2 separate regions of the Homo sapiens genome follow, and region 2 is reported to be linked to region 1. The links are microRNA targets in miRTarBase. Many come from high-throughput screens and were not tested one by one. Region 1 holds a microRNA gene; the other region holds the end of a gene's coding sequence.

The links. The annotated mature microRNA hsa-miR-27a-3p reads UUCACAGUGGCUAAGUUCCGC and lies in region 1 at 2,670-2,690, shown strand. An mRNA with a match to its seed (bases 2 to 7 or 8) in the 3' UTR can be bound and repressed. Matches are read on the target gene's strand: a 7mer-m8 pairs with bases 2 to 8, a 7mer-A1 pairs with bases 2 to 7 and ends in A, and an 8mer does both.
Region 2: miRTarBase lists NECAP1 as a target of hsa-miR-27a-3p. Seed matches in the 3' UTR shown: 7mer-m8 at 3,567-3,573 and 7mer-A1 at 3,455-3,461.

What each region holds. Positions count from the first base shown.
Region 1 is chr19:13,833,974-13,839,136 of GRCh38, reverse strand. It overlaps MIR27A (microRNA 27a), which reads left to right and starts at 2,620; the gene lies at 2,620-2,697. MIR23AHG (miR-23a/27a/24-2 cluster host gene) reads left to right here. Exons shown (of 1, transcript NR_036515.2): 1 at 1-4,621. It overlaps MIR24-2 (microRNA 24-2), which reads left to right and starts at 2,778; the gene lies at 2,778-2,850. It overlaps MIR23A (microRNA 23a), which reads left to right and starts at 2,478; the gene lies at 2,478-2,550. RefSeq lists enhancers at 186-405, 436-545.
Region 2 is chr12:8,095,733-8,100,732 of GRCh38, reverse strand. It overlaps NECAP1 (NECAP endocytosis associated 1), which reads right to left. Exons shown (of 8, transcript NM_015509.4): 8 at 2,852-4,691. The coding sequence ends at 4,643. Among named protein-coding and RNA genes, the nearest start is that of NECAP1, 16 kb to the right of the region's middle.

The DNA of each region.
Region 1 (5,163 bases):
CGCCTGCTCCCAGTTGGCGCCTCCAGACCCTAAGGGGACAGGGCTGGGCTGGGGCCTGATGGGAAAGAGTGGCTGGTATGTGTGTATGTGTGTATAGGGAGGGGACAAAACAGGACATCACTCGCCGCCTGTCTCGAAGTGGTGAGCGCCACCACATCGGGCGGACACTGGGGTCCTGGTGTGAGACACCCACGTTTCCGTTATCCTTTGCCTTGGCAAAGACAGCAGCAGCTCTGTCGTGATCATGTTTATCACTCATGGGGTCCTCACCATGACTTATGAAGTCCATACTTATTATCCCTGTTTTGCAGATGGGGAAGCTGAGGCCCAGAGAGGTTGAGTGACTTGCCCAGAGTCACCCAGCTCAGAAGCTGCAGAGCTGGGGCTTTCAAATCTGGGCAGACTTGGGCTCCAAAACTGGAGTCTGCTAGCCAGGTGTTGGGCTCTTATCAAAAGAAGCTCCACTCACTAAAGACTTAGGGCTGGCTTCATGCATTTGTGAAACGGGCAGTCTCACGGCAGCCCTGCTTGGAGGGACCTGGAGGTTAGTTTAATGTTGCACTGCTGGGGTCATGAATTTTTTTTTATTATTATTAATTTTTTTGTCTTGTATTGCCCAGGCTGGTCTCGAACTCCTGGCCCCAAGCGATCTTCCTGTCTTGGCCTCCCGAAGTGCCGGGATTATAGGGATGAGCCACCGCGCTCAGCCTGAAATTATTTTCTTTTTTTAAACTTGTTTTTGTTTATTTTAGAGATAGGGTCTTGCTCTGTCACTTAGGCTGGAGTTCAGTGGCATGGTCATAGATCACGGCAGCCTCAAACTCCTGGGCTCAAGCAGTCCTCCCACCTCAGCCGCCTGAGTAGCTGGGGCTACAGATGTGTACCACCACTCCTGGCTGATTTTTTAGTGAATTTTTTGTGGGCCAGACACTGTGGCTCAGGCCTGTAAGCCCAGCACTTTGGGAGGCTGAGGCAGGCGGATTGCTTGAGCCCAGGAGTTGGAGACCAGTCTGGGCAACATGGCAAAACCCCATCTCTACAAAAATTAGGGCCAGGTGTGGTGGCTCACGCCTGTAATCCCAGCACTTTGGAAAGCCGAGGTGGGCGGATCACCTGAGGTCAGGAGGTCGAGACCAGCCTGGCCAACATGGTGAAACCCCGTCTCTACTAAAAATACAAAACTTAACTGGGCGTGGTGGCGGGCACCTGTAATCCCAGCTACTCGGGAGGCTGAAGCAGGAGAATTGCTTGAACTCTGGAGGTGGAGGTTGCAGTGAACCGAGATCACGCCATTGCACTCCAGCCTGGGCGACAGGGCGAGACTCTGTCTCAAAAAAAAAAAAAAAGAAAAGAAAAAGAAAAAATTAGCCGGGCATGGTGGTGCATAGCTGTAGTCCCAGCTACCCCGGAGGCTAAGGTGGGAGGATCACTTGAACCTGGGAGGCTGAGGCTGCAGTGAGCTGTGATTGCACCCCTGCACTCTAGCCGTGGCGACAGAGTGAGACCCTGTCTCAAAAAAGAAAAAATATTTTTTTTTTTTGTAGAGATGGGGTATTGTCGTATTGCGCAGGCTGGTCTTGAACTCCTGGCCTCAGGTGACTCTCCTGCCTCGGCCTCCCAAAGTGCTGGGATTACAGGCGTGAGCCGCCATGCTTGGCCTGAAATTCTTAGTTTTCGAACTAGAGGACCACGTGTTCATTTTGCACCGGGTCCTGAAAATCCTGTATCTTGCCCTGGTGCTGGGCACTTACTGAGTGACATACATACTCGGTGACATCTCACTGGGCTATGCAAAAGAGGCTCTTGGCTCCATTTTACAGATGGGGAAACTGAAGCTTTGGAGAGTCTTTGGGAAACTGTGGAGCAAGGATTTGAACCTTGGGCTGTTTGGGTGGAGAGGCCTGTATCTTGGAGCTTGGATCCTGTGCTCTGGGGGGCGGGGGGTGCGTGTCTAGAAAGAGAGGGGGGTGCCTTGCTGCCGGCATCCGCCCTGGTGGGTGTGGGCTAAGCCCTGGCCACTGAGGAGACCGGGCCACGGGGGGGGAGGCCCTGGTGGTTTCCTCCTGCCCTCCAGGCTTCTAGGAAGTGGCGCCAGCTGGGGTGAGATCACTTCCTCACCCGCCTGCCTGGCCCCCCTTGGCTTCCTCTCCCCATGGCCCCATTTGGCCTGCCCAGGGCTCAATGAGGGGGGAGCTTGGCCATGCAAGTTGCTGTAGCCTCCTTGTCCCGCATGGGCCCTCTAGGTATCTCTGCCTCTCCAGTCCTGGGGCTGGAACGGAGGGCACAGCTAGGCTCCAGCTCCCCGTGTGGTGGCTCCTGCATATGAGAAAAGAGCTTCCCTGTGATCAAAGGAAGCATCTGGGGACCTGGAGGGGAGGTGTCCCCAAATCTCATTACCTCCTTTGCTCTCTCTCTCTTTCTCCCCTCCAGGTGCCAGCCTCTGGCCCCGCCCGGTGCCCCCCTCACCCCTGTGCCACGGCCGGCTGGGGTTCCTGGGGATGGGATTTGCTTCCTGTCACAAATCACATTGCCAGGGATTTCCAACCGACCCTGAGCTCTGCCACCGAGGATGCTGCCCGGGGACGGGGTGGCAGAGAGGCCCCGAAGCCTGTGCCTGGCCTGAGGAGCAGGGCTTAGCTGCTTGTGAGCAGGGTCCACACCAAGTCGTGTTCACAGTGGCTAAGTTCCGCCCCCCAGGCCCTCACCTCCTCTGGCCTTGCCGCCTGTCCCCTGCTGCCGCCTGTCTGCCTGCCATCCTGCTGCCTGGCCTCCCTGGGCTCTGCCTCCCGTGCCTACTGAGCTGAAACACAGTTGGTTTGTGTACACTGGCTCAGTTCAGCAGGAACAGGGGTCAAGCCCCCTTGGAGCCTGCAGCCCCTGCCTTCCCTGGGTGGGCTGATGCTTGGAGCAGAGATGAGGACTCAGAATCAGACCTGTGTCTGGAGGAGGGATGTGGTGGGTGGGGTTGGCTGGGCCCAAATGTGTGCTGCAGGCCCTGATCCCCAACTCTGCAACTGGGGACCCCTGCATGGCCACAGCTCAGGCTGGGCTGTGGTGCCAGCATAGATAGGTGGGTGAGTGGGTGGCCCTTCCATTAAAAGGGAAGCCAGCTGTGTCCTTTCCGGGCCTGGAGGCTTGGCCCCTCCTCTCCCAAGCCTGGCAGGGGCACTGGCCCGGCCCGCACCTTCCTAGCAGCCAGTTACCCAAGAGGAAGCTGCCTTGGGCCTCCAGACCGTTAAATGCCAACTCCTGGCTTCCGGTATCAGGCTGGGTTGACCTGACCTGGCCCCTTCTTGCTGGGCCCTGCAGCTTTCTAACTTGCCGGGAGGAGCAGTGACACCCGCCCCACATGTGGGGCATGGAACAAGTTCCTTGTGGACCCAGAAGGGACACAAGCAGGTGTGCTTAGTCCTGAGGCGCTGGGAATAGCTGATCCTCCCTGCCTTGAGGGGGTTCTCAGGGCAGGGAAGAGTTAGGACTCTGTTTTTTTTTTTTTGTTTTTTTTTTTTTGAGATGGAGTCTCGCACTGTCACCCGGGCTGGAGTGCAATGGCTCGATCTCGGCTCACTGCAACCTCCACCTCCCCAGTTCACACGATTCTCCTGCCTCAGCCTCCCAAGTAGCTGGGATTACAGGTGCACACCACCGCACCTGGCTAATTTTTGTATTTTTAGTAGAGACCGAGTTTCGCCATGTTGGCCAGGCTGGTCTCGAACTCTTGACCTCAGGTGATCTGCCCGCCTCAGCCACCCAAAGTGTTGGGATTACAGGCATGAGCCACTGCGCCCGGCCAATTTTTTTTTATGTTTTGTAGAGACGGGGTTTCGCCATGTTACCCAGACTGGTCTTGAACTCCTGACCTCAAGCAATCTGCTCGTCTTAGCCTCCCAAAGTGCTGGGATTACAGCTGTGAGCCACCGTGCCTGGCCTTTTATTGTTTGTTTTTGAGACGGAGTCTCACTCTGTTGCCCAGGCTGAAGTGCAGTGGTGTGATCTTGGCTCACTGCAACCTCTGCCTCCTGGGTTCAAGCGATTCTCCTGCCTCAGCCTCCTGAGTAGCTGGGCTTACAGGCACCCACCACCATGCCCGGCTAATCTTTGTATTTTTAGTAGAGACGGGGTTTCACCATCTTGGCCAGGCTGGTGTGATCATGGCTCATTGCAACCTTGAATTCCTGGGCACAAGTGATCCTCCTGCCTTAGCCTCCCCAGTAGAGCTGGGACTACAGGTATGCGCCACCACACCTGGCTAATTTTTTTAATTTTAATTTTTGTAGAGATGGGGGGGCAGGTCTCACTATGTTGCCCAGGCTGTTCTCGAACTCCTGGCCACAAGCCATCCTCCCACCTTAGTCTCCCAATGCGCCGGAATTACAGGTGGCTCAGGTGTGAGCCACCGTGCCTGGCTTTTCTCCACTATCTTGAAATCAGATGGGAGGAGGCTTTTTTCTGGGTGGGACTGAGGAGGCACACTGAAGTCCCCCAGGTCATCGGGGCTGGGCCATTGCCTTTTTCCCCACCCTGGGTAGTCGTGGACAGAAGCTTGGGATGGGATGGAGAGGAGAGATCGTGCTGTGTGTCATGTCTGTTGTTCAAGTAAATAAAAGTTGCCCTGACTTCATTCCTGAAGGTCTGGTCTGTGATTCACTCCTGCCTCCCATCGCTGGAGTTTCAGCTTTTGATTGGCCTGAATTTACCATCCTGGCACTCCGGGCTCCTGCCTGCCCATCCCTGCCCCACCTGCTCTGTGCAGCAGGGTATCCTGTGCTTGGAAAGGTGACCTTGGGGGTGTCCTGGATCGTGGGGTGACCATGAGGGAAACCCTAGAGTGGAAAGATTTTCACATCGCTGATCAAGGGAGGATGGAAGCTGATCTGAAGTGGTGGTGGTGGGGTGACCCTGAGGGAAACGCTGAGCCTGAGGGGTGACATGTGGCGATAACCAGGATCTGAGGGTCTTGAGCTAGTGACATTTGGGGGCAACTTGGACCTACGGGATTACTCAGGCCTCAGGGGAAGATTTGGGGTGCCTGGTATCTGAGAATGCTGGAGGGGAACTTGGGTTTGAGGGATGTGACATGAAGGAAACCCCAGTTCTTAAGGGGGGACATTTGGATGTGGCTGGGACCTGCGTGACGCCCCAGGAACATGGGAACATTCGTGG
Region 2 (5,000 bases), not on the chromosome of region 1:
TCTTGATGAATTTACCTCTTTGGGCCAGGCACAATGGCTCACACCTGTAATCCCAGCACTTTGGGAGGCTGAGGTGGGTGGATCACTTGAGGTCTGTAATTCAAGACCAGCCTGGCCAACACGGTGAAAACCCATCTCTACTAAAAATACAAAAATCAGCCGGGCGTGGTGGTACATGCCTGTAGTCCCAGCTTCAGGAGGCTGAGGCAGGAGAATCACTTGAACCCAGGAGGCAGAGGTTGCAGTGAGCTGAGATCATACCACTGCACTCCAGCCTGGGCAAGAGGGAGATTCTGTCTCAAAGAAAAAAAAAAAAGAATTTACCTCTTCAACGTTTATGTAATGACCGTGTCTCTTGCTCTTGTTATAGCTTTTGACTTAAAGTCTATTTTGTCTGAAATACATACAGTATTCCCCCCTTATCCTGAGGGAATACATTCCAAGATCCCCCTTGGATGCCTGAAACCACAGATGGTACTGAACCCTATATACATTATGTTTTCTCCTATATATACACCTATGATAAAGTTAAATTTATAAATTAGGCACAGCAAGAGATTAACAATAAGTAATAATAAAATAGAATAAATATAACAATATGCCAGAGTCACCACTCTTGTGCTTTGGGGCCACTATTAAGTAAAATAAGGGTTAACTGAATTTGTACAAGCATTGCAATACCACAACAATCTGATAACTGAGAGGACTATCAAGTGTCAAATAGGTAGGTAATGTATATAGAATGGACACATTGGACAAAAGGATGATTCACATCCAGGGCAGGGCAAAGGAATATGGTGTGAGATTTCATCACACTACTCAACTGTGTGCCACTATTTTTTTTTTTTTTTTTTTTGAGACGGAGTCTCGCTCTGTCGCCCAGGCTGGAGTGCAGTGGCGCGATCTCGGCTCACTGCAAGCTCCGCCTCCCAGCTTCACGCCATTCTGCCTCAGCCTTCCGAATAGCTGGGACTACAGGTGCCCGCCACCACGCCCGGCTAATTTTTTCTATTTTTTAGTAGAGACGGGGTTTCACCATGTTAGCCAGGATGGTCTCGATCTCCTGACCTCATGATCCACCCGCCTCGGACTCCCAAAGTGCTGGGATTACAGGGGTGAGCCACCGCGCCCGGCCCCCAGTGTGCCACTTTTAAACTTATGAATAATTTTTGTAATTTTCCAGTTAGTATTTTCAAAGCACAGTTGACTGCAGGTAACTGAAAGCACAGAAAACAAAACCTCAGATAAGGAGGGACTATATAGTAATATAGCTACCCCTGCCCTCTTTTGGTTTCCATTTGCATTAAATATCTGTCTCCATGCCTAACTTTCAGTCTCTATGTGTCCTTAAAGGTGAAGTGATGCTCTTGTAGGCAGGATACAGTTGAGTCTTGTTTTTTTAATTCATTTAGCCACTCTGTCTTTTGATTGGAGAATGTAATCCATTTTGCATTCAAAATAATCATTAATAGGTAAGGACTTACTGCTGCCATTTTTCAAATTGTTTTTTGATTGTTTTGTGGGCCCTTTGTTCCTTTCTTCCTCTCTTGCTCTATTCCTTTGTTATTTGATGATTTTCTATAGTCCTTTGATTGTTCTCTTTATCTTTTGTGTATCTACTATAGTTTTTGCTTTGTGGTTACCATGAGGTTTACATAACACTTTTTAACAGTTTATTTTAAGCTGATAATTTAAATCACATACAAAAACTCTGCACTTTAACTTTCCCTCCCATATATATTTTTTGTTTTGTTTGAGACAGGGTCTTACTATGTTGGCCAGGTTCGTCTTGAACTCCTGGTCTCAAGCAATACTCCCACCTCAGCCTCCCAAAGTGCTAGGATTACAGGCGTGAGCCACCACACCCAGCCACATTTTGTTTTTGATACCAATTTTCATATTTTCATACTGTGTATCCACTAACAAATTACTGTAGCTATAGTTTTATGGTTTTGGGGGGGTTTTGTTTGTTTTTTTTGGAGATGGAGTCTCACTGTCACCCAGGCTGGAGTGCAGTGGTGTAATCTTAGCCCACTGCAACCTCTGCCTCCCAGGTTCAAGTGATTCTCCTGCCTCAGCCTCCAGAGTAGCTGGGATTACAGGCACCCACCACTACGCCCAGCTAATTTTTGTATTTGTAGTAGAGACAGGGTTTCACCATGTTGGCCAGGCTGGTCTCGAACTCCTGACTTCTGGTGATCCACCCGCCTCAGCCTCCCAAAGTGCTAGCATTATAGGTATGAGCCACCATGCCCAGCCTTGATTCATGTTTTTTGTTTTTTCTTTTGAGAGAGTCTCATTTTATCATCCAGGCTAGAGTACCATGGTACAATCACAACTCACTGCAGCCTCGTCCTCCCAGGCTCAAGTGACCCTCCCACCTCGGCCTCCCAAGTAGCTAGGACTACAGGCACATGCTGCCATGCCCAGCTAATTTTTAGATTTTTTGTAGAGATAAGATCTCGCTATACTGCCCAGGCTGGTCTTGAACTGGCTTCAACCAATCTTCCCACCTTAGCCTCTCAAAGTGCTGGAATTACAGGAGTAAACCACCAACCACATCTAGCTAATTTATCTCCTGTGGCAATCACTGAACAAGAACTCCCAAGACCTTTTCTGGTTTCCAAAGTCTGTGGTTCTGACCTTAGTTATTTCTCTTATACTGATCCCTTTCATTTCTGCTGATTACAGTTAAGATATAAGAGGTGGCCTAGATCATGAAGATAATTTGAAGCAAATTAAATTAACTGTACCAGAAAATAAATAATGAATATTCATTGATTACACAGAGTGCTCTGTCATTTTAGAACCATGAACACAGAGGTCTAGTCTCAACTTCTTAAAAGCCTTATTTCTTAATAAAGAGTGATATAAATATCCTTTATTAACTACTGGTCCACTTATATTTGGTCAATTAAATTTAAAAGGTAATCAAATAAGCAAATTAAAAGATAAAAGAGACACTTTTTTCATATTTTTAATTACCATTATTGCACCAATACAGCATACACTTTATATACATATATCTTAAACATTTTCCATTTTTCAGGAATTCAAATACATAATATATTATCATCTCAAGAATACAAAGAACACAACATGGAGGAAGATTGAGAAAATAGGTTCCCAGTATTTAGTCACTAGTGATTCCACAGACTTTCCTTTTAGTGTTTTCTATTGGAATTTTAACATGTCCTGCTATGGCTCTGCAAGAATAGAGCTGCCTGGAAAAGGAGGCAATGAAAAGAAAATGGACCCAAAGTCAGAAAAAGTGAAGAAGAGAATCCAGGAAAGTAATATATTTTGAAACTAAACATAAGGACTCCCTTCGGCCAGAGTGTACATACCCAATAGGTGCAAAAAGGAAGCAATGATATCTTCCCATTTCATCCTCAAAATTGCTCGTTTAGAAACAAAATAGAAAGTACCCATTCACCTAAGAAGCAGAACTTTTTTCACAGCATTGTAATAGGAATGGCAGGGCAGAGGGAAAGGAAAGTAGTGGGAGAACAACTTGCTTTTAAGATACCCTGGGTGACAGGTATCAAAGCCTTGGGCAAAACCTGTCACAGTAAAGCTGTGACTCTCCAACTTCCTTCACAAATGACAATATACATAATAGCAGCTTTCTATTAAAGAACTACATGAACTGAAAAGAAATGTTTATGGAAAGGGGCCAGATACCCAGGCAGCAAGGCAATGAGGATACTAAACAAGAGTTAAGTGCTTTCAACCTCTCTGCTCTACAGATCAGGTTAAAAACTCTAAACCCTTCAACTTTAGGTCAAAGAACAGGGCAAATACAAATTAATGCCATGCTTCAAATGCAGCAACCAGATGGAGCTGCAAGAAATTAAACACTCCTATAGACTATCACTTGGAAAGCACAGCCTCTTGAACCTCCTTCATTACAGATACACCCACTGATCAAAGATGTTAACACAATTCAAACTCAACAAACAGAAAAGAGTAGTGGAGGTGCCACCAACACAACCCTCTTATCATAGAAAGAGACATGTAAACACACAAGAGGGTGATGGAGCTGCACCCAGCACTGGATGTTCACTGAGCACAATAAGCCTGAAGGAGACTACACAGCAGAGACCCAGGAAATAGGTCTTTCTCCATATCTACCCCTATCAAAATTCTGAATTTGTAAACACTGAGGTCAGCCTGTCCATTTTTAGTCCTGGGTTAGTGGAGAAGGAAGTTGCAAGGTTTTTGACTCCCCTGAAATTGCTAAATAGGGCTTCACAAAGAGGCACACAAGGGTCATGAGATGATTTTGAAATAAGTTAAAGAAATTAAAAGATGAGACAAATTTTACAGATGTTAGAGGTCATTCCCCCTCAAACAGACGCTGGCCTTTTAAGCCCTGCATAGTCAGCCAAAACTATGATAAGATCCACTAGTCCCCTACCTTGGTACTACGCAGGAGATAACAGATACTTTCTTGGCTGTACAAGTAACAACACAGGGGAGTGACATAAACCAGCTTGAATGTGATGGAGAAGCTATGAAAAAGATTGTCCAGTCATTCTGGTTCTGGGGAGGAAATGGGTTCCTAACTTCCCTCACAGATTGGTGCCCTCAAGGTCATTTTTATTCCTCAAGTCTGTCCTTAATGTCCTGCCAATGCCATTCAGAACTGGACCCAGTTGGATGGCTGTGGTGCCTGGTTTGGAACAGAGCTGCAAGACAGGAGAACAGAGAAAGCCAGAGACATAATATTAGGATAACAACTCCATTCTTTACTTAATAGTTTCTAAGAAATCACTGCCTAGAATTTCCAAAACCACACTTCATGGCAATTCTACTTACAAAGGCCTGAAATATCCCACTCAAACCTCATCCTACAGCTTTTTTGTCCCCCCATTCCCAGCACTACTATATTTCCTTCACTAGAACTCTTCCAAAAGACTCTATGTGACCTGCATATCCATTGCTTCTCCAGATCAAAGATTTCAATTGACTGTACATATCTCCTACACCCTGATTGA